5 separate regions of the Homo sapiens genome follow, and all the other regions are linked to region 4. Evidence: fine-mapped expression QTL. A gene starts in region 4. Each other region holds a variant in brackets. All regions are shown on one strand. Distances are between the middles of the regions. Region 1 overlaps LOC105375463 (a long non-coding RNA gene). Region 2 overlaps LOC105375463 (a long non-coding RNA gene). Region 3 overlaps TES (testin LIM domain protein). Region 4 holds the start of TES (testin LIM domain protein). Region 5 holds the start of LOC124901730 (a long non-coding RNA gene).

Region 1 (6,192 bases), 120 kb before region 4:
CACTTGAATTATCCAAAAGTTTTGTAAGACCCATTTGAATTCCAAAAACCTTTGTGAAGCTTTTTTTTTTTTTTTTTTTTTTTTTTTTGGTGGTGGTGGTGGTGGTTTGTTGGGAAGAGATTGTTGGAAGGATAGGCAAAAAGTGAAAACAGGTTATTTTGAGTTAGAATTAGGATCACAAGGAAACCTCTCTAAAATGGTAAAATACGCAACATAATCAAAGTGAGTCTTAAACATGAAATTTATGTGGTTCAAATCAGTCTATAATGTGGCACAGTGTAATTGCTCATTTTTGAAACTGATCTCTGCCTATAGTACCCACATAGCTCATAAATATAGCATTTGTATAATGCTACATAGAAAATACTTTCTATTTCCAGATTAGAATAGAAATTATTTTAATTGCTTGTTCATGTATCATTGAATATTAATGGAATCTTCTCCATTTAACGAGGCACAGAGAATTTCCGAAAGGAGGGAGAGCAAAGAAACATTAAGCCATATGGAGATTATCAATGTTATCACTCTCTGTCAAAAGGACTGAAAGGTTATATATACCAAATCCCAATATGTGCAGTCATATCATCTGCTGAATATATTTGAAAGTTAATAACTGTATGTAAAAATAAAACTGTGGCATCATTACATTTTAAGAAGCATTGCAAATGTATTGCTCCACATAGAAATGCACACAGACTAATATTAAGTCATGCTCCATGCTTCTTGTCCTATTTCTTGCTAAGTTTGAGTGTCTGGAATCCTTAGCTGAGTGCCAGTGAGTCTGGAACTCAGACAGAAGCTGCCCAGCCTCACTGGCTCTGCGTATTACAGGCTGTATTTGGTCCTGATTTACTCTACTGGATATGGTATCTGAGTTTAATGATGGATTTCATGTAGAATGAATACAGTAACTTAAAATTATGAGATGAAACTGCCTTACAAAACATTATTTCTTAACTTTCTGAAATTTGATGCCAGGACACATCCAGGATTTGAGCATACATCTGTCAGTTCTCAGCTCCCTCCCCTTAGTTCCAACCATCACCAATCACACTCAACACTTCTTAGTTTGGAACAAAGAAGCTCACTACCATCATGGTAGAATTAACTTGTAATGAAATTCATGCTTACCACATCCTATGAACAGGCCAGGATTTTATAGAACATACTTGATTCCTTTGGAAAACATGTTTATTTTTGAGTTTCTAAGCAGATGCATTTCTGCATTTGAATAGCAGCTTGCCAAGAAGTTCTGAAATCTAGCCATTTTAATAAGAAAAACCAAAATAGTGGTACAAGTTCTTGACCATCTGTTACTGCTCTTACAGAGAAGATTACTGCATTGGGTGGGAGGGAAGAGTACAACAAATCCTTAGGTACCAACCAGTTCTAAGACTCTATTATTCAAGCACCTCAGATTCATTGATTATTTCATGCAATTTATTGTGCTTTACTTTGGGACTAGCTATGCACGGATTTGTGTTATCTGAGGTGCATAACTAAGCTTCTCAAGGCTAGTCTATCTTCACTAATATCTTTTCTACTTAATCCCTGATATTCAAAATATATTTAAAGGAGGTGGGAGAGGAAATGCTTCCCATGTCACATTATAAACAAGGCCTAAAATAAAATTACTTTAGGGAGGGAGAGAATACACAGCAGTTTTAATTTTCACTAAGGTGGAAATGACTGATATCGAGCCTATTCAATTAGCAAATTGTGATAGCAGACACTAGACATCCCTATAGGTATAAGGAGGACACTCCAGAGGGAAGGACAGCCAGAGAAAACAGAAGGTGGAGAATGTTACCCTTTGCTTTAGAGTCAGCCTGTCTAGCTTTATAGCTGGTTTATACATCCCACAACTTTAGACTTCATAGTTAAGTACCCAGAGTATAGGAGAGTCCTCAGAAGTGGTTTGAATGTGGCTGGGTGTGGTGGCTCATGCCTGTAATCCCAGCACTTTGGGAGGCCGAGGCGGGCAGATCACCTAAGGTCGGGAGTTCGAGACCAGCCTGGCCAACATGGTGAAACTCTGTCTCTACTAAAAATACAAAAATTAGCTAGGTGTGACAGTGGGCTCCTGAAGTCCCAGCTACTTAGGAGGCTGAGGCAGGAGAATCGCTTGAACCTGGGAGGCAGTGGTTGCAGTGAGCCAAGGTTGCGCCACTATTCTCCAGCCTGGGTGACAGAGTGAGACTCCGTCTCAAAAACAAAGCAACAAACAAAATAACACAAGTGGTTTGAATGGTTTCTTATTTCTCTCTACAAACCTTGGAATTATCTTCATTAGGTGAAAAAGGGCAACAAATATATAAGTTTAGCTCTTAATTACATGCTGCAGAAAATGTAAAGAAGTACATATGGTAATAGCCAGTTTTCAATACAGGTAACACAAAAGGAAAGGGAAAGCTAATCTTAAAATGAAATCACCATCCTAATGAATTACCAAAAAGTGTGAAAAGTACTTTTACATCAAATGAAAAAATGTAATCTTTATCAAATTTATTTTTTACAACATTTATATTTATTGATCTGAGGTAGGCTTTTGTTAGAACAAAATTAATAGTAAATACTGAACAATATGTCAGGCATGGGGCAAATTGGTTTCTGTTCTTTACAACAAGCCACTATGACCCTATTAGGAAATGTTTTAAAGGCGTTTCTTAGCATTTTCAACAAAATATTTGTACTCCCTACTGAAAATAGCTTAATATGAAGTCCCAAAGGAATTCTGTCTGCCTCATAAAATTGCTTTTGGAGTTTTCAGTTTCTGGCCTCCTCCTTCCAAATGCACAGTGAATATATGGTGGAGTTTTGTCTAATTCTTTCAGTAGAGGAATTTTGCTACATTAAAATAATTTGTTAATTCATCATTTCCATGGTAAAATAGAAATTACTCACCCTGATTCCTAATACGATCAACATAACTTTGCTTTTCATACATAAAGACATTGGTATGAAAAGGAAGCATTCTCTTCCTTCCATCCATATGCTAGCCTGCTTGAGCGGTCGTGTACTATGACTATGGAAAGCATGACCTCAAATTCCAGCCACACCACTTCCCAGCTGTGTACCGTTCAGCAAGTCACTTGCCCCCTGTAATGACTCAACTTCCTGGTCTGTAAAATAGAATCATAGTGGCCACCACCAGAGAGAATTGCTGAGGGGAGTAAATGAGAGCATGAACGTAGATTGCAGCACAGCGCCCATCATGCGGGATGCTTTCAATAACTGTGAGTGATTTTTTCTATTATTAATTAATGCTTTTCTTGGATTTTCTTAACTACATCATATATTTCTAAAACCAATACTCTCTGTTTTTACTTATAAAACATAAATCTTCCGTAAGTAAATAATTATAGACTGAATGTCAATTCCTGGCCAAGTGCAGGATATACTGAGGCCATTATCTGGTGAATGCAGGGTTTATAGATAGCCTATCTCAATTATTTAGAACCTAAAGTGGACATTAAGATAAATTTTAAACATTTCAAAAACAGAACTGGTTGTC[A/G]CACAGTTTAATAAGCAAATTTGACCCCTAAAGTCTTTGAATAAATGCAGAGATATGGCTCATTATACATTTAAGCTTTCATTTCTACATGTTAACAATTTACTGAGATAAGCAAATATAAACAAAATGAACACTGTGGGAAAGTGTGTTTGATATTTTAAAACTCTTGTCAAACTAATTAATTCAAATGTGTCATTCAGGCCATTATTAAAAAGTCAAAAAATAACAGATGCTGGCGAGGCTGCGGAGGAAAGGGACGCTTATACACTGCTGGTTGGAATGTAAGTTAGTTCAGCCATTGTGGAAAGCAGTCTGGAGATTTCTTAAAGAACTCAAAGAAGAATTACCACTTGACCCAGCAGTCTCATTACTGCGTATACACCCAAAGGAATATAAATCATTCTATCATAAAGTGACATGCACACGTATGTTCGTTGCAGCACTATTCACAATAGCAAAGACATGAAATCAACCTAAATGCCCATCAACAGTAGACTGGATAAAGAAAATGTGGTACATATACACCATGAAATACTACGCAGTCATAAAAAAATAATGAGAACATGTCCTTTGCAGCAACATGGATGGAGCTGGAGGCCATTATCATAAATGAATTAATGCAGAAACAGAAAACCAAACACTGCATGTTCTTACTTATAATTGGGAGCTAAAGATTGAGTACACATGGATACAAAGAAGAGAACAATAGACACTGGGGCCTGCTTGAGCGTGGAGGGTGGGTGAAGGGTGAAGATTGAAAAACTGCATATCGGGTACTATGCTTTTACCTGGGTGACAAAATAATATGTACACCAAACCCCCGCAACATGCAATTTATCTATAGAACCAACCTGCACATGTATCCCTGAAACTAAAATAAAAGTTAAAAAAAGTCATTCATTAGGTATTAAATTCTGAAAGACCAAACCAAACAAGATGGAAAAAATAGAAACCATCAATGTTTCTGTCTCTACTGGGCCATTTCCATCATCATACAACATAGGACAGTTATCTCCTGTCTTAAACATAAAAATGAATAAATGAACCTTCTTTGTCTCTATGGTCTCCTCCAACAACCACGTCATTTCTCTGTTCCCTTTTAAGACTAAACTCTAGGCCTGTCTTGTCCTAACAACTGTACTAAAAGCTCTCTTATCGAGGTCCCTTAAAACCCCCACATGGCAAAATCCACTGGCATTCTTCATTCTTCATCTTTGACCCAGTTTATTACTTGGCCACTAGTCCACTACTCTATCTTATTTCTTGACCTCTAAACACTGGAATGCTGCAGGTCAGGCTTTGTGTGCTCTCTCTACCTGTGTTCCCTAGGTATCTTTATTCAGGCCTCAGCTTTTTAAATATACCTATAGATGGATGAACCCAAATTAGATCTCCAACACTGAGCAGTCCCATGAATTACAGATTTGTATATTCAACTGCCGCTTTCATATCTTCACCTAAATGAAATACAGGCATACCTTGGAGATGTTGTGAGTTCTGTTCCAGACTACCACAATAAAGTGAGCCACACACGTTTTTGATTTCCCAGTGCGTATAAAAGTTATATGTTTATACTGTAGTCTGTTCAGTGTAAAATAGCATTATGTCTTAAAAAACATGGACATATCTTAGTGTAAAAATTGTTTATTACTGAAAAATGCTCGTGATCATCTGAATCTTCAGTGAGTCATATTCTTTTTGCTGGTAGAGGGACTTGCCTCAGTGTTGATGGCAGCTAACCAGGGTGGGGGCTGCTGAAGGTTGGGTGGCTGTGACAATTACTTAAAGTAAGACAGCACTGAAGTTTACTGTATCAATTGAATCTTCCTTTCACAAAGAATTTCTCTGTAGCACGTGATGCCGTTTGATGGCATTATACTCACAGTAGAACTTCTTTCAAAATGGGAGGAAATTGTCTGAAATCCTGCTGCTACTTTAACAACTAAGTTTATGCAATGGTCTAAATCTTTTGTTGTCATTTCAACACTGTTCATAGCATCTTCACCAGGAATAGATTTGATCTCAAGAAAACACTTTGCTCGTCCGTAAGAAGAGATTCCCAATCTATTCAAGTTTTATCATGAGATTGCAGCAATTCAGTCACATGTTCAGGCTTCACTTTTAATTGTAGTTTCTTGCTGTTTCTACCACAGCTGCAGTTACTCCCTCCTCTGAAGTCTTGAACCCTTCTAAGTTAGTTTTCCGTGGGGATTCGAATCAACTTCGTCTAAACTCCCATTCATGTTAATATTTTTACCTCTTCCCATGAATCACAAATGTTCCTAGTGGCATCTAGAATGATTAATCCTTTCCAGAAGATTTTCTGTTTTCTTTATCCAGATCTATCGGAGGAATCACTGTGTATGACAACTGTAGCCTTACAAAATGCATTTGTTATATTAGGCAACTTGAAAATAGAAATTACTCCTTGATTTATGGGCTACAGGATGGATATTGTGTTGTGTTAGCAGGCATGAAAACAACATTCATCTCCTTGTACATCTCTATCAGAGCTCTTGGGTGGCCAGGTGCATTGTCAATGAGCATGACATGGTTTGGCTCTGTGTCCCCACCCAAATCTCATCTCTAATTGTAATCCGCATGTGTCTGGGGAATGGCCTGGTGGGAAGTGATTGAATCATGGGGGCCGATTTCCCCCTTGCTGTTCTTGTAATAGT
Region 2 (6,192 bases), 79 kb before region 4:
TCATTTGGTGAGGTCATTTTCCTTGAAGTTTGTCAGTGTCTGGGCATTGAAGAGTTAGGATAAGGTATTTATTGCAGTTTTTGCAGTCTTGGCTTGTTTGTACCTGTCCTTCTTGGAAAGGCTTTTCAGGCATTTGAAGAAACTTCAGTGTTGTAATCTAAGTTTTTGGTTACTGTAGCCATATCTGCATTAGGAGCCACCCCAAGCCCAGTAATGCTGTGGCTCTTGCAGACTCATAGAGGTATTGCCTTGATAGTCTAGAATAAAATCCAAAATAATTCTCTGGATTACCTGACAGAGACTCTTGTTCTCCTCCCTTACTTTCTCCCAAACAAATGGAGTCTCTCTCTCTCCCTCTCTCTCTCTCTCCCTCTCTCTCTCTCTCTGTGTGTGCTGAGTTTCTTGGAACTAGAGGAGGGGTGACACAAACAACCCTGTACCCACCACCACTAGGACAGTGCTTCAGACCTGAAGCCGGCACAGCATTGGGTTTCACTCAGAGTCAGCTGTGAAACTGCCTGGCTACCACCTATGTTTGCTCAAGGCTCTAGGGCTCTAAAATCAGTAAGTGGCAAAGCCAGACAGACTGTGTCCTTCTCAGGGTGGTGAGTTCCCCCTGGCCCTGTGCAAGTCCAGAGATTCTGTCTAGCAGCCAGGGCCTGGAGTTGGAAACCTTAGAAATATACCTGGTGCTCTATTCTACTGTGGCTGAGCTGGCACCCAAGCCACAAGACAAAATTCTTCCCACTCTTCTCTTCTCTTTCCACAAGCAGAGGAGTCTCTCCTCATGGCTACCACTGCCCTAGGTCCACAGTGAGAACTGCCTTGCTACTGCTCATGTTCACTCAAGATCCAAGCACTCTTCAGTCAGTTATGGTAAATGCTGCCAGGCCTGGGACTCTTGCTTCAGGGCAGTCAGCTCCCCTCTGGCCAATGGCAGGTTCAGATATGTCACCTAAGAGCCAAGGCCTGGAATCAGGGACCACAAGGATATGCTTGCTGCTCTACGCCACTGTGGCTGAGCTGGTGCCCAAACTACAAGACAAAGTCTTGTTTATTCTGCCCTCTCTTTTCTTCAAGTAGAAGAGTTTCTCCTCATAGTCACAAAAGCTGGGAATGTACTGGGTCGTGGCTCTGAATCTCACCCCAAACCCATGGTAAGTACTGCCTGGCTACCACTGCTGATTGTTCAGGGACCAAGGGTTCCTTAGTCAGCAGGTGATAAATCTTGCCAGAACTAGGTCCTTCCCTTCAAGGTGATGGGTTCTCCTCTGACCCAGGGTATGTATAGAAATGTCATCTGGGAGCTAGAGCCTGGAATGGGAGCCTGGGACTCTGCTCTGTGCTCTATCCTGCTGTGGCTAAGGTGGTATCCAAGTTGTAAGACAAAGTACTCTTTACTCTCCCTTCTCCTCTCAAGTGGAAGGAATGGTTCTCTCCTGAAGTTGCAAGCTTCACTGCCTAGAGTTTGGGAAGGGTGACACAAGAACTCCTTAGGCCACCCCAGCTGATGTCTCACTAAGTTGTGTGCACCCCAAGCCCATTGGTTTCAAGCCCAGCACAGCACCAGGAGTTGCCCAGAAATTGCAGTCCTTGTGGCCTGGACTGCCATTCATTTCAAGTTTATTTAGAACCCCAGAGCACTTTAGCCTGTGTTGGCAAGACTTGCCAAAACTCAAGTTCTGTCACTGGGATGGGCTATTTCCCTCTAGCTAGGGTTGGTTGAAATGCTCCCTCTATGGGTACTGGCTGAGTTCTGGCCTTTGTTGCTTTCTGCTGTGACAGAGCAGCACTGAATTCCAATGCAAAATTCCACAGTCACTGCACTGTCCCACCCTCAAGCATACAGATTCTCTCTCTGCATCATGAGGGGCTGCTGTCTGGGGATGGGGGAAGAGTGGTGTAGGCAATTCAAGTCTGCCTTTCCTATCCTCTTCAGTGCCTCTTTCCTTAATATGATGTGGAGAAATAGGAACACTTTTACACTGTTGGTGGGACTGTAAACTAGTTCAACCATTGTGGGAAGACAGTGTGGCTATTCCTCAAGGATCTAGAACTAGAAATACCATTTGACCCAGCCGTCCCATTACTGGGTATATACCCAAAGGATTATAAATCATGCTACTATGAAGACACATGCACACGTATGTTTATTGCGGCACTATTCACAATAGCAAAGACTTGGAACCAACCCAAATGTCCAACAATGATAGACTGGATTAAGAAAATGTGGCACATATATGCCATGGAATACTATGCAGCCATAAAAAAGGATGATTTCATGTCCTTTGTAGGGACATGGATGAAGCTGGAAACCATCATTCTCAGCAAACTAT[C/T]GCAAGGACAAAAAACCAAACACCGCATGTTCTCACTCATAGGTGGGAATTGAATAATGAGAACACTTGGATGCAGGGTGGGGAACATCACACACCAGGGCCTGTTGTGGGGTGGGGGGAGGGGGGAGGGAATAGCATTAGGAGATATACCTAATGTAAAAGTCGAGTTAATGGGTGCAGCACACCAACATGGCACATGTATGCATAAGTAACAAACCTGCACGTTGTGCACATGTACCCTAGAACTTAAAGTATTTTAAAAAATGATGTTAAAAGCAGGTACTGTGATCACTCACCTGATTTTTGTTTTTTATGAAGGTACTTTTTTGTTTAGATAGTTGTTCAATTTTGTTTTGATAGTTGTTCAATTCCTTTCGGGGAGATGATTGCTGGAGGCTTCTATTTGGCCATCTTGTTCCATCTCCTCCTGTATAGTACTTTTTAATGCTGTCTTATGATTTTCTGATCTTACACAAAGGTCTTAAGTACGTTTGCCTGCTCAGAGAAAAAAAAGTGTATCAAATGTAGGTCTTCCATAGTATGATTCATTTTAATTTTGAGGACTTTATTGGCTCATTACAAAAAATGTTTTCACTAATAATAACAACTTTCTTTTAAATCAAAACACATTATGAAAACACACAATTTTTTTTAGAAAAAGTGTTCAGTAAATATTATTTAACAATGCTTCTCTAACTTCAGCCAAACCAGAGAAGAGTAATTTATGGATTTTGAAAAGTTCATATGTGTAGTTTGCAGAAGTGATATTTGGTACATTCTTTGTGTAGTTGCCAAAATTTCTCCACCAAAAATTAGAACTCATTTGATAAAAATTGTTGACAAAAATAACCACAATAACAATACACAATGTATGATGTGAGAAGCTTATTAATATGATAAATAATATATCTTAAGCGTAATGAAAGAGTTTTTTAACTCCAAAAATTCAGTTTGTATTTAGTACAGCTAGAAGTTCTGTTACAAAAATGCATAAATTCAAGGTTCACTTCTTAATACCTAATTGGTTTTGCCCACTATTCTATAAATAATCCATAAAATTACATGTTCTTTACATCTTCTGTGATAATTAAAACAATATTTAACCAGATTTTAACAAATCTAGCTAATTGTTTCTTCTGTACTCAATTATTTCTACTTACTTCAAAAAAAGTAAACATCAGAACCAAGATCAGGTTTCACGTGTGAGAATTTGGAGTTTTTTTTTTTTAACATAACATCTAAATTTGAAGTACTCTAATTTTAAAAATTAGGATATGATGAATATTTATCAGAAGATCCTCTTTTTCAGATAGTTGAAAACTTTTGTGTATACATTCAGCATCAGAAATAACATATTGATTATTTTGGCTGGGCACGGTGGCTCACGCCTGTAATCCCAGCACTTTGGGAGGCCGAGGCAGGTGGATCATGAGGCCAGGAGGTCAAGAAATAACATATTGATTATTTTAATGGATTGATAGCCATCTTTAATGCCAATACAACATTATGCCTGTAAATTTAGCATTATTGCTTTTCATAAGAAAAAGAAATACAGTGGCATGTTATGCTTTTAAAATTTCCTGATTTGGCCAGGCGCGGTGGCTCACGCCTGTAATCCCAGCCCTTTGGGAGGCTGAGGTGGGTGGATCACAAGGTCAGCAGATTGAGACCAGCCTGGCTAACATGGTGAAACCCCGTCTCTACTAAAAATATAAAAAAAAAAAAAATTAGCTGGGCGTGGTGGCAGGCACCTGTGGTCCCAGCTACCTCAGAGGCTGAGGCAGGAGAATGGCATGAACCCAGGAGGCGGTGCTTGCAGTGAGCCGAGATGGCACCACTGCCCTCCAGCCTGGGCGACAGAGCAAGACTCCGTCTCAAAAAAAAAAAAAAAAAAAAATTCTTGATTTAAGGTAGCAAGGCTTTAAAAATAAATCTACAACTATTTCTTACAAACACTTCAAACTCTGAGAAAGATGAAAGCTAAACAAAGGACAATACTGGTATGAGTCATATATTTATTGAAAAGGAAACATAAAGAACTACCGTGCAGGCACACACTGCTGGACTGTAAATGAGGCTCATTTGAGGCTGGGGATACGTGAATGTGCTTGTTGTGCTGGGCCCAGGGAGCCTCTGGGCACAGCTCTTCATGGAAGTGGCCTGTAGGGTGAGTAGGGGTGAACCCCTTCCTGCAAGCCATGGACGGCAGAATACAGTGGAAATAAAACTTACTCGGTCTGGATGGCAGAATTAGAGATAGCATAGTGGCATGGGTTGACAGCCTCTCCTTCTCCCAATACCTATCCGAAACAAAACCCCAAAGTTAAAAATTCACCAATAGCTTAACAAGAAAAGATAAAACTTCTTTCCATAAAATGTGGAAAGTGATGACTTGATAGAGAGGAAAAAGAATCTTCTGGTTAAATATCATCCATGTACCCCAAACTGGCCAATGGTTTCTCATTTTCCTCAAAGTCCAAGTCCTTAAAATGCCTTCCAGGGCTCTCTATGACCTGGGTCCCAATACTGTGACTTCATCCCCTATTATTCTCCTGATTCACTCCTCACCGGTTGTGTTGGCCTCCTCACTGTGCCTCTAACATGCCGATCACTTTTCCAGTGCAGGCCCTTTCCATCTGTATTTCCTCTGCCAGAGCAGTTCTTCCCTGACAATGTACAGGGCTCATTCCTCCATTTTCTTCAGGTCTATGCTCAAAAGTCACCTTACCAGAGGTCCTTTCAGAACACCCTGTCCCAAACAGCAGACCCTATAGTCTCTGATATGCTTACTGTGATGGTTAATATTGAGTGTCAGCTTAATTAGACTGAAGGAAGCAAAGTATTGTTCCTGGGTGTGTCTGTGAGGGTGTTACCAGAGACTAACATTTGAGTCAGTGGATTGGGAGAGGCAGACCCACCTTTAATCTGAGTGGGCACCATCTAATCAGCTGCCAGCATGGTTAGAATAAAGCAGGCAGAAGAACTTGGAAGGAGCAGACTTGCTGAGTCTTCTAGCCTTCATCCTCCTCCTGTGCTGGATGCTTCCTGCCCTCAAACATCAGACTCCAAGTTTTCCAGCTCTTGGCCTCTTGAACCGACACCAGTGGTTTGCCACAGTCTCTCGGGCCTTCAGCCACAGACTGAAGGCTGAACTGTCCACTTCCTTACTTTTGAGGTTTTGGGACTCGGACTGGCTTCCTTGTTCCTCAGCCTGCAGACGGCCTATTGTGGGGCCTTGTGATTGTGTGAGTCAATAATCTTTAATAAACTCCCCCTCATATATACATCTATCCTATTAGTTCTGTCCCTCTAGAGAACCCTGGCTAAACACTTATTTCATTTTTGTCTATAACACTTATACAACCTGGCTTATATAAATCTGTTTTGTTATTCATTCATTGTTGTCACGTCAACAATAGTAATATTCATAGTTCAGGCACATTGTGTATTTTGTTCACTGCTGTAAAACTAAAATGATACTTGGCACAGAGTTGACACTCAGAAATATGTGTTGAATAAGTAAATTCTGGTGTGGCATAGAGTTCTGGCTGTGGTCCCATCCTGCAGAAGCAAAATTCTTTTAGTATTGTGAGGTCACAGAGTCATGGCATTCTCACTCGCATCTTCCATGGGGAGACAGGTGGAATGGTGAGGTACCCTTGGAAGGTTAAGAGAAAAATTTAGTAAACACTTTTGAGTATATAGACTCTTGCTGCATGATCCCACTGTGTAAGAATTTGCTTATTTCCAGGGCTTCATACCAAGATGGGTATAGCAGAAGCCTACCTGTATGATAAAGGAGTGAATACACTCCCAGCTGGGTGCAGGGGGGCCTGCCAGAGTATCTTTAACAGTG
Region 3 (6,192 bases), 35 kb before region 4:
TATATCATGGTATGCAAAGGCAAGTCCTTTTTTAGGAGGGAGAATAAGTATCCATATATTTAAGCAAGAAGGAAACAAAACACGACTTTGCTTGATAAGGCTTTTAAAAGCTAGGTTGTAAAAATTGAAAGAGGGACCCAATTAAACTGAAGAGCTTCTACAAAGCAAAAGAAACTGGCAACAGGACAAACAGACAACCTATAGAATGGAAGAAAATATTTGCAAATCCTGCAACTGACAAAGGTCTAATATTCAGAATCTATAAGGAACAATTCAACAAGCAAAAGACAACCCCATTAAAAAATGGGCAAAGGACATGAACAGATATTTCTCAAAAGAAGATATACATATGGCCAAAAAATATATGAAAACATGCTCAATATCACTAATCATTAAGGAATGCAAATCAAAACGATGATGAGATGCCATCTTCCATCAGTCGGAATAGCTATTACTAAAAAGTCAAAAAATAACAGATGTTGCGGAGAAAAGGGAATGCTTATACACTGTTGGTGAGAATGTAAATTAGTTCAGCCACTGTGGAAAGCAGTTTGGAGATTTCTCAAAGAACTTAGAACTATCATTCAACCCAGCAATCCCAAAGGAAAATGCATTGTTCCACCAAAAGGACAATGCACCCGTATGTTTATCACAGTAGTATTCACAATAGAAAAGACATGGTGGAATCAACCTAGACGCCCATCAATGGTAGACTGGATAAAGAAAATGTGGAACATATTCACCATAGAATACTATGCAGCCATAAAAAAAGAATGAAATCATGTCCTTTGAAGCAAAATGAATGCAGCTGGAAGTCATTATCTTAAGTGAATTAATACAGGAAAGGAAAACCAAATACCACATATTCTCACTTATAAGTGGGAGCTAAATATTGAGTACACATGGACACAAAGATGGAACTAACAGACACTAGGGAATATTAGAGTGGGGAGGGTGAGAGGGAGAAACGTTTGAAAAGCTAACTCTCAGGTACTATGGTCACTACCTGGGTGATGGGATCATTTATAACCCAAGCCTCAGTAACATGCAATTTACCCATGTAAAACACCTGCACTGCACAGGTACATTCTGAACCTAAAATGGAAGGTGAAAAAAAGAGGAAAGCAGCAGAATTATCAGTCACTAATAATGTATTTTTGGAAATTACTGAATTAAGTTTTGTGATTTAGATGGTACCATAACGTTTCAACTGAATTTTCTAAGTAAGTATTTTAACAAATTCAGTGTGTTTTGTCAACCAAACGTGCATCTGCATTTCTGATATGATAACGAGAAGCAATTATTCATTTGATTTTTATCAAAACCAACCAAGATTTTTTCAATGAATTCACTGAAAGAAGTGGTGATGGCCCCAATAATAGACATCTTCAATTGTACCATTAAAAAAAAAGACTGATTAAAAAGTGCACACTTAAAGGGACATGTCTGAGTGTAACCCCATCTGATATTCCTTATGCTGTCACCCAATAGTGAATAAAATAAATAATAAAAAGAAATGAATTAAATAAAACCACAAAAATTATATGTTTCCTTATTTAAGCAAGAGGCTTTGTACTTTATTGCATGTTAACATTTTATAGCTATTATCCAAGGTTTCTTGTTTGTTTGTTTTTTTAGTGAGAGACAGGGAAACTTTTCCCATCAAAGATTATAATCCTAGATTTAGGTTTACAGCCTTTCTCATTTTTTTCTCAATTTCTTTTGCCCTCCATTTCCTTCCCTTTGTTTTTCCTTTCTCTTTCCTTCCCTTATTTTATTTCTTCAAACACTTATTGCCACCTACCATGTGCTCTCTGCCATCATGGTGTTTCTTATAGTTCAAGGACAATGTTCTCTTCTTCACTCTGGTCTGGCACACAGACATTCATTCATTCATGCAACATACACGAGTGCCCATGTGCCAAGCAATGTACTTGACACTAGGACATAGTGCTTAAAAAAAAAAAAAAAAAAAAGGGGCCTAGTCTCTGATTTCTAGAACTTACTCTCTGGTGGGAGATAGACATTAAATAATCACACACACACACATACACAGAGAAAATTTCATTTGTGATAGGAAAGAAAGTATAGGGTCCCTTGAGAGGGTGTAATTTGGACTTCAAACTCGTGAAGAAGGGACCCCATAAGAAGATGATATTTAGGTTGAGATCTGGACGATGTATGAAACATAGGTGTAAACTGTGTATGTGGGTGTGTATCTGGGGAGGAGAAAAGGAAAGAAAAGTCTCTAGTATTGGGTATAAAGAGGAATACCTTCAGTGGTCCTGAATTAGGAAAGAAATTGTCCCCTTAGGTGTCATAACCAGGGGAGGTTGGTATGACTGTAGGAAGATGAGTCAATAGGAGGGTGATAAGACTGGAGAGGTAGGCATGAAGTCATGCAGGGGCTCATAGAACACATTAAGGAATTTGGGCTTCATCATAAGAGCAATCAGGAAGCAGCAAAGGCTTTTTGGTAATGGAATAAAATGATCAGATCTGTAATTTTAAATATCACAATATCTGCCATGTGGTAAATGGATTAGGGGTGAAACATAACTGGCAATAGGGAGACAAGCTAACATGTTAATTATGCATCCAGTTTGCAATGGCATGGTTCTAAATAACAGGATGCTGCCACTACTTCACAAATGGAATTTACATCTTGGAGGGTTATTGTTGTGGTCCAGGTAAAATATGCTATGGCTTGGATTAGAGTATTCAACAGTGGAGATGAAAAGAAAGGAAGAAATTTGAGGTCTCCTTGAACAAAAAACTGACTAAACTTAGTGGTTTATTTGGACATAGTGATGGCAAAGGGAAGGCTCAGTGATATGGTTTGGCTGTGACCCCACCCAAATTTCATCTTGAATCGTAGTTCCCATAATCCCCATGTGTTGTGGGAGAGATGTGGTAGGAGGTAATTGAATCATGAGGGCTGTTACCCTCATGCTATTCTCATGATAGTGATTGAGTTCTCTTGAGAGCTGATGGTTTTATAAGGGACTTTTTCCCCTTTTGCTCGGCACTTCTCCTTGCTGCCACAATGTAAAGAACATGTTTGCTTTGCGTTCCACCATGTTTGTAAGTTTCCTGAGGCCTCCTCAGCCATGCTGAACTGTAAGTCAATTAAATCTCTTTCCTTTATAAATAAATTACTCAGTCTCAGGTATGTCTTTATTAGCACCATGAGAATAGACTAATAAATACAGTAAACTGGTACTTTAAAGGGTGTGGTGCTGCCATAAGGATACCTGAAAATGTGGAAGTGATTTTGGAACTGGGTAATAGCTAGAGGTTAGAACAGTCTGGAGGGCTAAGAAGACAGGTTGATGTGAGAAAGTTTGGAAATTCCTA[G/A]AGACTTGGAGGGCTCAGAAGACAGGAAGATGTGGGAAAGTTTCGAACTTCCTAGAGACTTGTTGAATGAGTTTTACCAAAATGCTGATAGTGATATGGACAATGAAGTCCAGGCTGAGGTGGTCTCAGATAGAGATGAGGAACTTGTTGGGAGCTGATGTAAAGGCCACTCTGGCTATTCAAAGAGACTGGTGGCATTTTGCCCCTGCCCTAGAATCTGTAGGCAGGGGCAAAACTTTGAACTTGAGAGAGATGATTTAGGTTGTCTGGTGGAAGAAATTTTTAAGCAGCAAAGCATTCAAGAGGTGACGGAGGATAAAAGTTTGAAAAATTTGCAGCCTGACAATGCGATACAAAAGAAAAAGTTATTTTCTGGGGAGGGATTCAAGCCCGCTGCAGAAATTTGCATAAGTAACAAGGTGCCCGGATGTTAATCACCAAGACAATGGAGAAAATGTCTCCAGGGCATGTCAGAGAGCTTCACAGCAGCCCCTCCCATCACAGGCCTGGAGGCCTAGGAGGGAAAAATGCTGTCGTGGACCACGCCCAGGGATCCCTTGCTCTGTGCAGCCTTGGGACATGCTGCCCTGCATCCCAGCTTCTTCAGCTCCAGTGGTGGCTAAAAGGGGCCAAGGTATAGCTTGGCCCATTGCTTCAGAGGGTGCAAGCCCCAAGCCTTGGCAGCTTCCATACGGTGTTGGTCCTGCAGGTATGCAGAAGACAACAACTGATGTTTGGGAACCTCTGCCTAGATTTCAGAGGATGTATGAAAATGCCTGAATGTCCAAGCAGAAGTTTATTGCAGGGGCAGAGCCCTCATGGAGAACCACTGCTAGGGTAGTGTGGAAGGGAAATGTGGGGTTGGAGCCCCCACACAGAGTCCCCACAAGGGCACTGCCTAGTGGAGCTGTGAGAAGAGGGCCACCATCCTCCAGACCCCAGAATGGGAGATCCAAGGACAGCTGCAGGCACTCAATGCCAGCCAATGAAAGCAGCTGGGAGTGGGACTGTACCTTGCAAAGCCACAGGGGCGGAGTTGCCCAAGGCCATGGGAACCCACCTTTTTTGCATTAGCACACCCTGGATGTGAGACATGAAGTCAAAGGACATTTTGGAATTTTAACGTTTAATGACTGCCCTATTGGATTTTGATCTCCCATAGGGCCTGTAGCCCCTTTCTTTTGGCCAATTTCTCCCATTTGGAATGGCTGTATTTACCCAATGCCTGTACCCTCATTGTATCTAGGAAGTAACTAACTTGCTTTTAATTTTACTGGCTCACAGGCAGAAGGGACTTGCCTGGTCTCAGATGAGACTTTGGACTTGGACTTTTGAGTTAATGCTGGAGTGAGTTAAGACTTTGGGGGACTGTTGGAAGGGCATAATTGTGTTTTGAAATGTGAGGACATGAGATTTGGGAGGGGCTGGGGCAGAATGATATGGTTTGGCTGTGTCCCCACCCAAATCTCATCTTGAATTGTATTTCCCATAATCCCCACGTGTTGTGGGAGGGACATGGTGGGAGGTAACTGAATCATGGGGCCTGTTACCCTCATGCTGTTCTCGTGATGGTGAGTGAGTTCTCATGAGAGCTAATGGTTTTATAAGGGGCTTTTCTCCCTTTTGCTAGGCACTTCTTGCTGCCACCATGTGAAGAAGGATGTGTTTGCTTCCTCTTTTGCCACAATTGTAAGTTTCCTGAGGACTTCCCAGCCATGCTGAACTGTGAGTCAATTAAAGCTCTTTCCTTTATAAATTACCCAGTCTTGGGTATGTCTTGACTAACTGAGAGCAGACTAATACACTCAGTCTCTTGAAAAATAAAACCAAGTTTCTGGGATGAGTAAATTAGTAGAATGAATATAATTTATTAAGATAGTATATTCAAAAGATGAACAGTTTTGCAGTATGGAGTGGGGAAGGTTGATGGAAGTCTCCAAAATGAAACCACTGATAAATTTGATATGCCTGTGAGACAAGGTAAAGATATCACAGAGTGTAGGATCTATAACTCTCATGTTAAAAACTGTAGCCTGGTAGGAAATATAAATTTGGTGGTCAGGGAACAATATATAATGAATATGAGTTAAAGAGATCATCTGTGCCTGTTGGCAAAAATGTAGAGGGAAAAAGTAAGGACTCAAGAAAGAGTCTAGTAGAGGAAAAGAAGCTGGAAAAGGTGACAGAGAAAAACAGAGGAGTAGGGAGTGGTGTTAAAAATTTAAGCTGGAAGCAATATACATGGCAACGACAACATAACAATAAGAGTGGCGATCTGAGTGTTGTAAAACACATTCTAAAGATACTTACATTGTTCAGTCTATATAAACATGGATTAACATTAGATACAATTAGGCTAAGAATGCATGTTGAAGTAACTAGATAACTAAATAATTTATAGTTTAAAACACTCAAATTAGAAAAAAGGAAAAAATAAAGTACTAAGTGTTCAACTCAGGAAGTTAGGAAAAAGGCATAATAAGCCTGAAGTAAAAGGAAGGAAAATAAAGAGAATAGCAGAAACTAGTAAAAGGAAATAGAAACTATTCTAGAAAGAGTTCCTAGAGGATGAGGCATGGGGGGAACAAACCCAGACACTCAGCATAGATCATACTTACTGCATTAGTTTTAAGATGTGAAGCAAGAAAGCAACCTTGCTATCACCAATTCTAATCATATGGTTCTGAAGGTACTAATCAGAGCAGTGTGAAAAGTTACAAGAATTCATCAGAAAGAAAAAAACTAAACTGTTGCTATTCACAGATGCTATGACCACAGAGAAATGCAATGTATTAATTAGCATTAAGAAGAATTTACTAAGTTTTCTAAATTTAA
Region 4 (6,192 bases):
TCTGTTCTAAAGTATTATTAAAACAAAAACTTTGTATAACCAAACTAGCTCCCACATCCTAGCAACAGCTCGCTTTCTTCAAACAAAACAAAATATAGCAAAATCTAATTATAAAAACCCCTTGTCTTTGTGATGGTGGGTTTTAACTGGTAATTAATCCCAATTTGTACAACTGATGTGGACGAGCTTTCCTTTTACAAACCAAGAATTTTATAATAGTATCATCTATCTCAATCACTGTTTAATAAAGACAGTCCTCCTTAATTCTTTTTACATGAAATGTTAATGTGGAACAATGATGCTTTTCATCTGTCTGGAAGAAATTCCTCATGAAATCAACAATGTAAAAGTTTTAGAAGGAAAAAATGTCATACATCTTAAAACAGAAGTCATATTAGTTGTATTTAAATGGTTGTATCTTTGTTCCAACTTTTAATCTTCCTTTTCTCAAGGTACATTCAAACTATAAATTTTCTTGAATAACTGAGTCAAAAAGAAAGGAGACTTGAAAACTAGGTACCAAAATAGGGTGAGGACTCTGCTGGTAAATCAGATAGTCTTGTAATATTTCCTTCTTTGGACGTGTTAGAAAACAATTGCTAAAAGGAACATAAATTTCTTTTTGAGAGTATGGCTAAGATTGTGAAATACATTCCTGAGATTTCCAAATTTTGTACTGGGAAACTTTTTGTTAGACTATCAAGCCTATTAAGGGACTCACAAATTGGAGTCATACGGGACATCTCTGCGGTTTTTTAATAGCTTCCAATTTACCAGTTGAGGATTCTAAGAATCATCAGTGAAGACAACGTAGTGAAACAGGGATTTGTTATATCATGGGATTCTCTCTAAAACCTTTAATTTATGGAATTCTTTCTGGGGTGGTAGAGGCGGAGAAGAGGAGGATTAGAGAAAGTTAAGATTCTTGGTTGAAAATATAACTTTTAAAAGTAAAGTGGGGGATAAACGAGGAAAATTACACCATATGTCAAGGGCATTATTTATCATAATCCACATTTTCAAACTCTAAGGAAATTGTTTATAAACAACGTCTGGATTTTTCCTTTGCAAGCATATACAATTTTTAAGTTTGAACTTCTTCCCTCAGAATTACTCCTTGTCTCAAAAAGTTTCAAAAATGTCTTTGATTTTTCTCCCCCTATTAAACAGACTTTATTTTTAAAGCATTTTTTAGCTTCACAGCAAAATTGAGCAGAAAATTCGAAGTTCCCATGTACCTCCCCCATGCCTTCCTGTCTCCAGCAGCCTCCCGGACTACCAACAACCCGTATCAGTGCAGTACATTTGTTACAAGTGATGAAACACATTGACACATCATTATCCCCAACATACATAGTTTACATTAGGGTTTACTCTTGGTGTTCTACATTCTATGGATTTTGATTAATGTATAATTACATGTATCAGCCATTTTATAGTATCATACAGAATAGTGTCATTACCCTAAAAATCCTGTGCTTCACCTGTTCATCCTCGGCAGCCCAAAATATGTTTACTTTTGCAAAGTTGTCTTCAAATAAATACTTAAAAGCAAGGACAAGACCCCCCAAGTTTTAGACAAGTACTAAATTAAGTAGCTCTTACCTACTTGAAAACTAAATGAGAGTAGTATTCATCAACAGAAAGCTAAGCGGGCAAAATGCTTTCCCCGCTTTTCCCCCATGACAAGCAAGATTAACCAAAAATATTACAGTTATTTAAAAGAAAAAAAGAAAGAAACCAAATGGGAAGAGAATAGAATGCAATCACGCTACCATTAACAATTTATGTTTTTCTGTTCTTGGATACCTTTTTGAGTGCCTGAGAATTTTAGTCGCAAGGAATGAAAAAAACTGTTTTCTCATTTCGAGTTTTTATTGGTCAATAGCTTCCTAACCGAAAACTCTGCAGTCCTAACACAATATTTTGTATCCATTTTCAAAAATCCAGTTCTGGGCATAAAATAGAATTAATGCTCAAGTCAAAAACTTTGTGTTTAGAAGATAAAATATTAGGAACCATGAGTATGAGAAAAACAAAAACTGTTTTCTGTATTTTTCCCTTCCTCTCTCTGCAAAACTTCTCTATTTGATAAGGGACAGCTAGCTTAAATTTACCACAAAGTAAAACATGAGCAAATCCCCTGGAACGAGGAGAACTTTCGCACAGGGCAATTCACTCGAATGTGACATCAGCATTCCTTCTGAGTCATAGTCTGGTCCCCACCCTTTTCTCCCAGGCGACACCAGGCTCCGCATAACCCGGGAGTGGCTCAGGTAGGGCCGTCGGTTCCAGTGCCTGCGAGGCAGCAGCCAAGCTGAAAATGTCTCCCTGCGCTGAGACGCTGGTGACAACCGCCCTTTGGGACTACCTGCCAAACAAGGAGAATGCGCTCTTTGACAGATAATTCCCTAAGAGGGAGGCACTGCCTCGGTCGGTAGACAAGTAATGAATGACCGAAAAAAAAATCACATTAGAAGTTATCACCAGCACGGGTGCGAAGGCAGTGCATTAAATCAACACTCATTTTAGAGCGCCCCAGACAGCCCAGCCGGAAGGGAGGAGATCAGAGCTGTCAAAGCACAGCAGAGCCCCAAACCACAAAGGCTTAATGAAATTCAACTTCCTGAGCCAGGAAGTGTCACGGTCTCGCCCGCACTCGCCCTAAGCTCGTCCTTTCCTTTTGAGGAGGCACAGGCAGAGCTGAAACATCTTAAGTAAAGTTTCCAACACCTACAACCACTGGGATTCCGTGAGACTGGAGAGAAGAGTCCCGCGCCCGCCCTCGCTCGCGCTTCCAATTCTGTCGCTCCCGAGTGTGGGGAGCTGGCGGGGCCGCCGAGCACCTCCTCTACCCAGGGGGCCAGGTCCCTGGGCCCGGGGCACCGCAGACCCAGAGCCGGGCTCACACCGGGGGGCCCGCGAGCCCCACCCACCTCGGCACCTCCGGCCGCCGCGCGCCGCGCGACCCGCGCAGGTGAAGCAGCCGCCGCCCGCCACGAGCGCCCCCCTACCTTCTTCACTTTGTTTTCCAGGTCCATGTTAACGCGTCCTATGGGTCCCCTCCTCCTCCTATCCGGGATCCCACGGCCGGGTTCAGCTGGCCTCCGGCTCCGCTGCGAACACGGGAAACCTGCGGAACTCCCGCGGCGCCGCTCAACAGCCACTCGCCCGGCGCCGTCGAACTTCCGCCGCCCAGTCCGCCGCAGCGGGCCTGCGGCCCGGACCCGGGAACAAAGGGGGCCGGGCAGCCAATGGCAGCCGGGCAGCTCCGGGCCGCCGCCAATCACCGAGCGCCGCACGCACCTTCGCGGCCCGAGCGCGGCGCTGGCAAGGTGAGAGGCGGGGCGGCGTCCGAGGCGGCGCCCTGCTGGGCAAGCTCAGTGACCCTGACCTGGTCTCCGAAGGGATTCTCTGGGCGTCCACGGGCCGGCTTCTAAAGAGCTGGGATCCCCAGCCTCCCTCTAGCTGAAGATGGAGAAGAACTTTTTCCATTTGGCAATTTGTACCTGTGTTTGCCCAGGACTTTTTATTTGGGTCAAGGGGAATAGTTATCCCAATACTAACTTCTCAGTTTATTTTCAGGGTAAAGAGAGAAAAAAAAGAGAGAGAGAGAGATTGTAGGGATCGTTAGGGATTCCTGTGATGGACCTTGGGCACTAAATTCAATATTGCGTTGTGGAGATGCCCTTTCCTCAATTGCTTTTTTCCACAATCCCAAATACTGTCAAGAAACCGTATCTTACATCCCTAAAGTCAGCGAAGATTCTTAGATTGTTTTCTGAGCATTGGGTTGTTCAAAAGTAAAGATGATGTGAATCACTTCAGAAACAGGTTGTGTCATTCCTTTGGAAGCAGAGGGTTGCCCTTTGTCTCTGTGTGAGATGGTGCTAGGCCTATCGCGTGCTCAGGCTTTGATGAAGCAGAGTCATCACATTGGTGCACCAAAGCTGAATTCATTTCATGCCCTAATTCAGGAGCAATTGCATCTAATACCATCAGATTGGTCGGTCTGGAAGGGAGCCTAACGATTACTTAGTCTAGCTTCCTCACTTTGCAGGGAACTGAGGACTCCAGAGGTGCAGGGACCTGCCTAATGTCTTAGCCTGTTGGGGACAGAGGCATTGCTCATGAATCTAAACAACTTCTCAAAGATGTTTGGGGCTGGAAGCACAGCATGTTGACTAAGGAAAAAGAGCAGTCAATTTTCTTCAATTTGTGGTTATGGCAAAAAATAACATTGCCCAGACAGCAGGTGACCTAATTTGGCACCTACTTTTAAAAATAACAAAACAATATAAAACAAACAAACAAAAATTCCCTAATAATGCAGATATTCAGGTCCAGATGTATGTCTGCCTTGCCTCGAGAAATTTGGTAGCTAAAAATATCCAAAATTCATTTTAGCCAATACTTGCAACTCTGCTTACTTGATTATTTGTTAACACAGAGCATTGATTTATAATGTGCATGTTTCCTTTATCCTATTAAGAATTAAAACTGAAATTACCAAAATGAGTTATGCATTTTTCTTTTCAGCTGATGTAAAACTTTTCTGTGTCATTTTCCCAAACCACCTTGAAAGGTGTGGGCCCCTGCAAAGTCTGCCCGTTGTAAGTGTATAGGATCATGAGGTCTAGCTATGACAAGGCAATTTTGTTTCTTTCAGAGAGCTTAACAGATGGAAAATGTCCAGTAAAGCAATTTAAATAAGGCATCAAACAAATGTTGTAACATAAATTTTGGACCCTTATTTGATGAGGTTGCAGAGATGACACTAAGAAAACCATCTGGAAACTTTTTTTTTTTAACTGTCAACTTCTGCCTTTCTCCCATTCTTCCTTCCCAACCCTCTCAGCATTACATTGTGTGTGTGTATCATTGGCAAGGATGGAAATAGAAATTCAGTGAGTTTTATCTGGAATTATCACTGTGCCAATTATATAAAAATAATTATAGATTATGTATAAATTATAAAAATAAAATTGAGGTAGATAAGTGTTAAGAGAGTTAAATTGTAAGTTTTTGTTCAGTTATTCAGGTGTTAAGCTACAGTTATTAAGGAGGTAGAACTGGCATGGTTTGATGAGTACATGTAGTTGATGACAGTGGAATGAATAGAAGATGGCACACATTTCTATCTTGATCACCTCTATGGATAGCTCAGAAAGAGAGAAAATATAGGATGATGGTCAGGGTTTTGTTCAGTTGTGCATTCTTTGGGGCTGGTGGTGGACATAAAGGATACAACTTTTAATATATTGAGTTTGAGACTGAGACATTGAAATGAGTATCCAAATATACATCTTGAATGCTGATTTAGGAGTTCACATCCTACATAAATAAATAATTAAAGGCCAAGAAGTGAGATGAGCCTCGGAGACAGTAAAATAAAAGAGAAGAATATCAAAGACACCAAGTGAGCAAGGCTGAGCAAGAGAAACACATAAAAGAGATAAGGGCTAGATTAAGGGTAAGAAAAAAATTAGGAGTCAAATCCCTAAAAGCAAGAAAGGAAATTGAAGAAGAAATTAGTTAACAATGTCAAATTGTAGAAAAGGGTCAAATGCCCTTCGGATTTAACAAAAAGGAGATCATTGGTGACTTTGGAAAGTGCATTTTTGGTGCAGTTGTGGGGAAAGATATTACTTTATAATTTTATCTCCCTTTGTTTCTACCAGAGTGCTTTAGTCAATGTTGGACTTGACTTTTCCACAAAACTTATGGACACATCAGCCAAATAAATGCCCAACTCTGCTGTTTCAATCAAGTAGAGAGGAAATCAATATACTATACTGGATAATACTAAGGAATGGTCTTAAGATCTTTATCTTTAGAGAAGTAAATGAAAATACTAGATTTTACACATGTGTGCAGGCACACACAGAGAGAGAGAGACAGACAGAGACAGAGACAGAGGAGAGAGAGAGAGAGAGACTGAAGTTCTCTGTATAGGCCAAACAAAATATTTATTCAGGTTAAATTCAGTTTCTATGCTATCAAATTACAATATCCGATGAGGGAAATGTGTTAAACTTTTATGTACCCTTCATCACTGGAGAGATGTAAAAATACATAAGACATTCCCTTTGTTCTTAAGCAGTTTACAGATTAGTATGGGAGTAGCAGGTGTGTAAGAGTAATGAAATGTTACAGGTAGAGGGAAGCACACGTGAGAGTCAGGGAGAAGGT
Region 5 (6,192 bases), 48 kb before region 4:
ACTCCACATCATTGCTGGCCATGAAAAGTGAAATGTTACCTAAGAAAGGTATTCCCCAAATGATGTTCCTGACTCATCTCACAAGTCAACAGAAACCCAAAACTTTAGATTCATACTTATTTACAAACATACCTTTTAGTTATCTAAACAATGCTGAATCTAAACAATCATACATTAGCAAAATAATTTTGTTCTGGGCAGCATGTGCCCAGACCTCATGGTATGAATTGTGCTTGGATAAGTCAACCATAGCAACTCTGTTTCCCTTTGCCTTTGATGAGGATGAGCAGGTGACATATTTGTAGCCAATGAAGTGGAAAGGCAGGTGAATCAGCTGGGGGCCCCTGGGAAAGATCTTCTTCGTTGTCTAGAGGTAAAATACGCTTTTGCCATTTCTCTTCTTTATTATTTTGGATGATGTCATATGAGGGAGTGTTGCTTGAATGAAGGGACAAATGAGAATAGAAGGCAACAACATATAGAGGGTGGAAGAATAGAGAGATAAAAATAAACTTGTTCTGAGCCAAATTTGGGTTAGCCTCTATCTTGTCTTAAAACCACTCTTAGTTTTTTAGTTACTTACAGCCAAAAGCATCCCTGATAACCCACTTTTCCCTAGGAAACTACCAGAACTAACCTTAGCCTGCCTCTCGACCCTGTTTATTACCCCTGGCCTCTAGATTTTTCAGCCTTACTGGAAACCTGATACCCATTCTGCTTTGTACTTCGAATCTGGCCCTATCTCCTCCTATACTCTTATCTCTGTACCCACTGACATCCAACTTCTGTGAACTGCAGACTCCTTTGTACTCTCAAACTCCTCATCATCTTCTCCAACTGACACCTAGTTATCCCCAAAGCCTATTTCTTCTGTAGTATTTCAAGTAGTGTCTGGCACAATCCCTGTGGGGTAGGTGTCTTCTTCACCGTCTACTGTTTTTCCCATTAAAGGCTGTTTGTTTCCTAACAATCACAGCTCTTTGAGGTGTAGCACATGGCCTTAGACTTTACCACCCATCTCCACCCTGAGTTTCCATCTTCTATCAGATGCCACAATACTTCTCCACATACTTTTATAACTTTAGCTCTGGCTTACTCTTCTCTCCACCATTTTCCCTGTGGTTATTCTTGATGACTTCAATACATTATATCCATTCAACACTTGGGCCCGGTATTTCTTACTCTTCAAATCCAACAATGTTGTCCTCCATCCTACTGTAATGGGAGAGGAGGAGAATCAATGGGATGTGGCAAAAAGTGTCTTGTCTAGATTCCTAAATCCAGCTCTCCCTGGAACTATATACCATGATGTCTTCACAGTCCATCAATATTTATGGAGAAATCAACTGTAATATTAGTCTCTGTATTCACTAATGTCTGACTCTCGTAAAGATAACAGGATACAAGTTGGTTTTATTATTGGCTGAGGGGCAAGATACCCTGGTGAGGAGTATCACTGAAAAAAAATTGATAGCAGCCTTCGTAAATGTCATCATAAGATGCCATTCAAAACAAGTATAAAAAGTTAATGGCATCTTATTTTGAGTGCTTCAAGTTGTATTATCAGATCAAATAAAAGCTACAATGACAAGTTCTCTGTGAAAGAACAAAATAATTAGCCAAAGCTATTTAAGCATCAACTAAATATATGAAAAAAGATCCTATTAATCTATTAATCGAGCCAGAATGTGTTTTGTGTGGTCAAAGCACATACACATAAACCAGCACAGTGGGTCCTTTGCATACATGTGGGCATTCATTACAGTCATCAAAGTTGTCGGCAAGCATTTAAATCAGCAGAGGTCAAGAAGGGGCAGATGAGTGAGAAATTGTGGCAAAGTGCCTTTTTATAGAGACATTGACGGAAACCCAAGTTTTCCAAAGAATTAAGTGAATACCCAGAAGACAAGTTCAGATATGCCAAGGCATCTCAAGACAAAGGCTGAATACTGATCTTGGGTGTTGGTGTCTCTTTGGTAACTACGGTGAAGTTGTATAAGCTTAAACGCTATGTGTTGGAAATTCCTTGAGAATGAATCAGTGATGAATCCCTTGCCTTTGGTGAAATTGGGCTGAAATACTTCAAAGTCAAATTTGGAAATCTATGCTTGAAGACTTCAGTAATAGAAGTTTCAGCTAGTCAATGAAAAGAAAGAATAATCCCTAACTCATTTGCCGCCCCCCCCACCTCAAAAAAAAAAAAAAAAAAAAAAAGGAAGGAGGAAAGGGAGATATGTAGGTACCATGCAACAAATATGAAGGCTAGTATGTCTCAAGAGCAATCCAGATTTCCTAAGGGATTGGCCGTGTTAGTAGCAGATGGGTTCTGTTTCAGTTTATTCTCACTTAGCCATGTCTGGGAAAAGTTAAGTTGTACAACTTTGTGGACAATATGCTGTGGAAAATATATTTGTTGCCATTTAAGATAAAGATATGAGCAACCATAAAGCGATCTTTATAGACAGTAATGATACTTGTGATATTAGCTTCTAAAATTATATGCAGAATTAGATTACTTTAGATAAGGTGACACGTATCCAAGCTCCAAAAGTTACTTTTGCATGGTTGAAGGCATAGTGCAGAAGGAGTAAATTTGTATGCTTGGTATGCACATGTGCATGTGTGTGTGGTGGTGGGGAGTGGAGAGGTGGAATGTAAAGAGAAGTACTATTGGCCAAACAGGAGCTGGAAAAAAAAAAAAGTCAAGTTATTCTGGGTATGTATCAGAGAAAACTGCAACTCCCACTATGACAGAAATAATTGTAGACTGAGGGAGAAAGTATTATGGCCTGCTAACATTAGGAAGCATGAGTCTACCACTATTCCCCATTTGCTTTCTGTCTCACGATAAGTTTCCATGAAAAAATTCTTCTTTTAATATTTTTTACATATAAAGAAACCAGAGTTGAAACCCAAGTATAAAAGGCTTGTTAGATCCAACTGAATAGAAAATAAGCTCTCCCAAATTTTAATTAAAATTACTTTCCCTTTCTTTGAAAAAGAAAAAAACTCTTGCATGACCAAACTTAAAAGTCCTGATTTGAAAGTTTCATAAACCTTATCTTTTCTCCATAATGAAACATCTAGATTCTGTGCTGTCCTGTCAGAGGCAGACTTTTATTTTCGTTTGGGTAATTTTTATCCTTGGAGACATCGCCCCCTGCTGTAACACATGCTTAGTTGCAGAAGCATTTTTCACTCAAAAAAGGATATGAATAAAAAGATACAATGATTATTAAAGTGAAAGAAACTTT[ATTTTG/G]AGTAATATACATATCATTCATTCCATTTAATTTTCATAGTGCATAGCTATGTGTAGAAGTACACAGGGAAGAATAAACATTAGAAATACCTAGCCATGAAAATATACAAGTGAAGACATTTGATATATCCATGGACAGGCTTGGAAGTATTATAAAACAGGATCCATTAGGAAAGAATAAAAACCATGCAAAAAAAATCTTATCTAAATCATGGCAGGCAAGTGCAATCAATATAAATCATAGTCTCTGGGTACAAAAACTATACATGTTCTTTGGATTAAAAGCAAATGGGTGGCTTGGCTTTTATGTCCAAGCCAAAAATCATCTATACAAGTAAAAAGTGTGTGGGTCAGGCATGGTGGCTCCCACACCTGTAATCCCAGCACTTTGGGAGGCCAAGGCAGGCGGATCATCTGAGGTCAGGAGTTTGAGACCAGCCTGGCTAACATGGTGAAAACCTGTCTCTACTAAAAATACAAAAATTAGCTGGGTGTGGTGGCATGCACCTGTAATCCCAGCTATTTGGGAGGCTGAGGCAGGAGAATTGCTCAAAATAAAAAAAAAAAAATAAAGAACTAAAAAGTGTGGATACTGTTATGCCACATGTGATAATAAAATATTCAAGGCCACAGATGCAAGTCACCAACTTACAAAGAGAATACTGAAGGTAGGGTACATTAAAAAAATAGAGAAATGCAATAAAGAAAATGCCACCTCTGCCTAAATCAGGAAAGAGTAAATGCATAGGCATTAAAACAGCAGCTCTGCATACTACACTGCATTTCTCTTTGTCAAAAAGAATTCACTGTGTATCATTACAAAGGTCAGTGAATAAGACGAGGCAATAAACGTAGCGCCTTGGTATTAGGGCAAATTTAGTTTTCTTTTCATTTTACACATGAGGGGGAAAAAAGAAGTGTAGAACTAGGAATGCTCATCTTTCCATTCAGTACACTAACTTTTAAGTGTGTGGCACAAATGGAATAGAGACATGAAGTTTAATGAGATCCAAGCTTCCAAAAATGATTTCACATTTGAAAAGCTATGGAAAGATACAATTATTTACTGTTTTACAAATCAAATGCTTAAACCAAGTTTAAAAGTTGAGACCGAAAAAAAATTGATGAAGAAAAAATGGCCAAAAAAATTAAACAAAATCTCTTGGTTTCCTTTACAGTTTCTTTTTTTGCGTTTTATTTTTTTCAAATTGCATTTTACAGTAGAAATGCAGACCACTTTGGATAGCTATGGCTCGATACTTCTGGGTGCCCTCCTCCTAAGACATCCTCTTCTTACATTCCACTGAACAGAAAACCATCCCTTCTACTGGCATGAACTTCTGCCCAATGAGGCATTTGCTGCAGCAAGAGCACAGAAAGCACTCTGTGGATGCATGCCAGCTGAAATTGTTATAGGTCACCCGCTGCACTTCTGGGTCGATGGCATTGTGGCATCCTTGACACACCTATTAAGAAATAATACAAGAGAAGAGGGTGAGAGATCAAGCTGTAATGGTAACATTTTCATCTTAGGACATATTTCTTTAGATGATAAATTAAAACTCATAATGACAACCTCAGAAATACACAATGGAGGGTGGCCTTCTAGCTAACCTTTTTGGCCAACTGTTAATGGAGGTCAATATTCTGAGCAGCCTGAGAAATAACGAGTGAAGGCCAAACAGGTGATTTGATGCATGTAAGATAACTTCATGGCATTCAAGGCAGAAAGTCTTGATGGGAAGTTCCAAAGCAGTGTGCTTAGTTCTGATGTATTTTATTAGATTGCACATTTGTAATTACACAGAAGTTTATGATTTTTCCTTGTTCATTAAAGCTTTGAAGTGGTAATTTTACCTGTCTTACCTATGACACATGAGATTATTAACACCACTAATTTCTAGACAGTAGTAAATTAAAATCATGTTCAAAGTAATTAAGGACTCAATTAAAAATACTGACAGTGTTTGAGAAAAATGAATTTGCACTAAAAATATAACTTGTAGTTAATTGGCTTCTATTCTGTCATAAGATCAGTCATAATTTATGTGTAATCTAATATTGTAGAACATTAATACTTACAATCCCTGTACCATTCAGTATGTGTTATGTATATATACATGACATACAAACATGTATATACATACACAAACATACATACATTTACACCACAAAATTTTCTTCTTATTCAAACATGCACATGAGGAAAATGAATAAATAACCTATGTTATAGCAGAAAACAGAAAACCAGTTCGGACCTCTGAAACACTGGATAGTCCATGCCTTATAGTTTATACATGTTCTGAATGAATATGGCTGTCTTAAAGTTTTTGTTTTAAATATTTCATAACAAGTGAAGAAGCCAGCAAGACTGTCTGGTATCACAGTGACTAATCTTAAGCACCCTTGGTCTCGTAATGTGATTGTCAGGAATTACTGAGGGATAAGGGGTGGGAACAGGTGAGTGGAGGTCATTCAGCTTGAGCCTCCTTACTTGAAAAGACTTCAAAATGTGGCTGCTACTCACTGGGTAATTGGTTTAGGCAGTGAAGTGAGGCCTGGTTATATATGTCCATTTCAGACCTGCATATTTTTGTTACATTGCTTCTGATTACAGAGATTATAGCTCTGTAATCTATAAGTTAGGTCAACCCAGTCTTCCCTGAGATACAATGAAAATTCTTTGATCAACACACTATTCCTGAATACTATAAAAATGAACGTTTCAATTACAAGCACATTTCTAATGTGCAGCTGCACCATGCAAGCAACTGCTTTTTGTATATATTTTTATAGCTTTATTATGCATTTAGAATGTCTTATTTTCTGCATTTCATATTAATCTTTCCATTTTAAAATTTATGATCAACACATAATTGTACATATTTATGGGTGTACTATGTGATGTTTCAATACATGTATACATAGTGTAG

The links.
Region 1: its variant is fine-mapped to the expression of TES in whole blood (TOPMed, PIP above 0.99).
Region 2: its variant is fine-mapped to the expression of TES in whole blood (TOPMed, PIP 0.95).
Region 3: its variant is fine-mapped to the expression of TES in whole blood (TOPMed, PIP above 0.99).
Region 5: its variant is fine-mapped to the expression of TES in whole blood (TOPMed, PIP above 0.99).

What each region holds. Positions count from the first base shown.
Region 1 is chr7:116,324,876-116,331,067 of GRCh38, reverse strand. The region is part of intron 6 of LOC105375463 (a long non-coding RNA gene); the gene reads right to left. Among named protein-coding and RNA genes, the nearest start is that of TES, 120 kb to the right of the region's middle. RefSeq lists an enhancer at 2,919-3,213. The variant A/G (reference allele first, on the strand shown) is at 3,515.
Region 2 is chr7:116,286,491-116,292,682 of GRCh38, reverse strand. It overlaps LOC105375463 (a long non-coding RNA gene), which reads right to left. Exons shown (of 7, transcript XR_001745336.2): 2 at 4,569-4,636; 3 at 2,633-2,831. It overlaps LOC102724434 (a long non-coding RNA gene), which reads left to right and starts at 5,956. Exons shown (of 4, transcript NR_130922.1): 1 at 5,956-5,984. The variant C/T (reference allele first, on the strand shown) is at 2,337.
Region 3 is chr7:116,242,732-116,248,923 of GRCh38, reverse strand. The region is part of intron 2 of TES (testin LIM domain protein); the gene reads right to left. LOC124901730 (a long non-coding RNA gene) reads left to right here. Exons shown (of 4, transcript XR_007060485.1): 2 at 4,988-5,082. Among named protein-coding and RNA genes, the nearest start is that of TES, 35 kb to the right of the region's middle. The variant G/A (reference allele first, on the strand shown) is at 3,358.
Region 4 is chr7:116,207,557-116,213,748 of GRCh38, reverse strand. It overlaps TES (testin LIM domain protein), which reads right to left and starts at 3,210. Exons shown (of 7, transcript NM_015641.4): 1 at 3,015-3,210. The coding sequence starts at 3,041. RefSeq lists an enhancer at 2,282-2,521 and silencers at 2,882-2,971, 3,112-3,311, 3,066-3,328, 3,362-3,491.
Region 5 is chr7:116,255,827-116,262,018 of GRCh38, reverse strand. It overlaps TES (testin LIM domain protein), which reads right to left. Exons shown (of 7, transcript NM_015641.4): 7 at 3,236-4,725. The coding sequence ends at 4,537. LOC124901730 (a long non-coding RNA gene) reads left to right here and starts at 4,715. Exons shown (of 4, transcript XR_007060485.1): 1 at 4,715-6,192. The variant ATTTTG/G (reference allele first, on the strand shown) is at 3,255.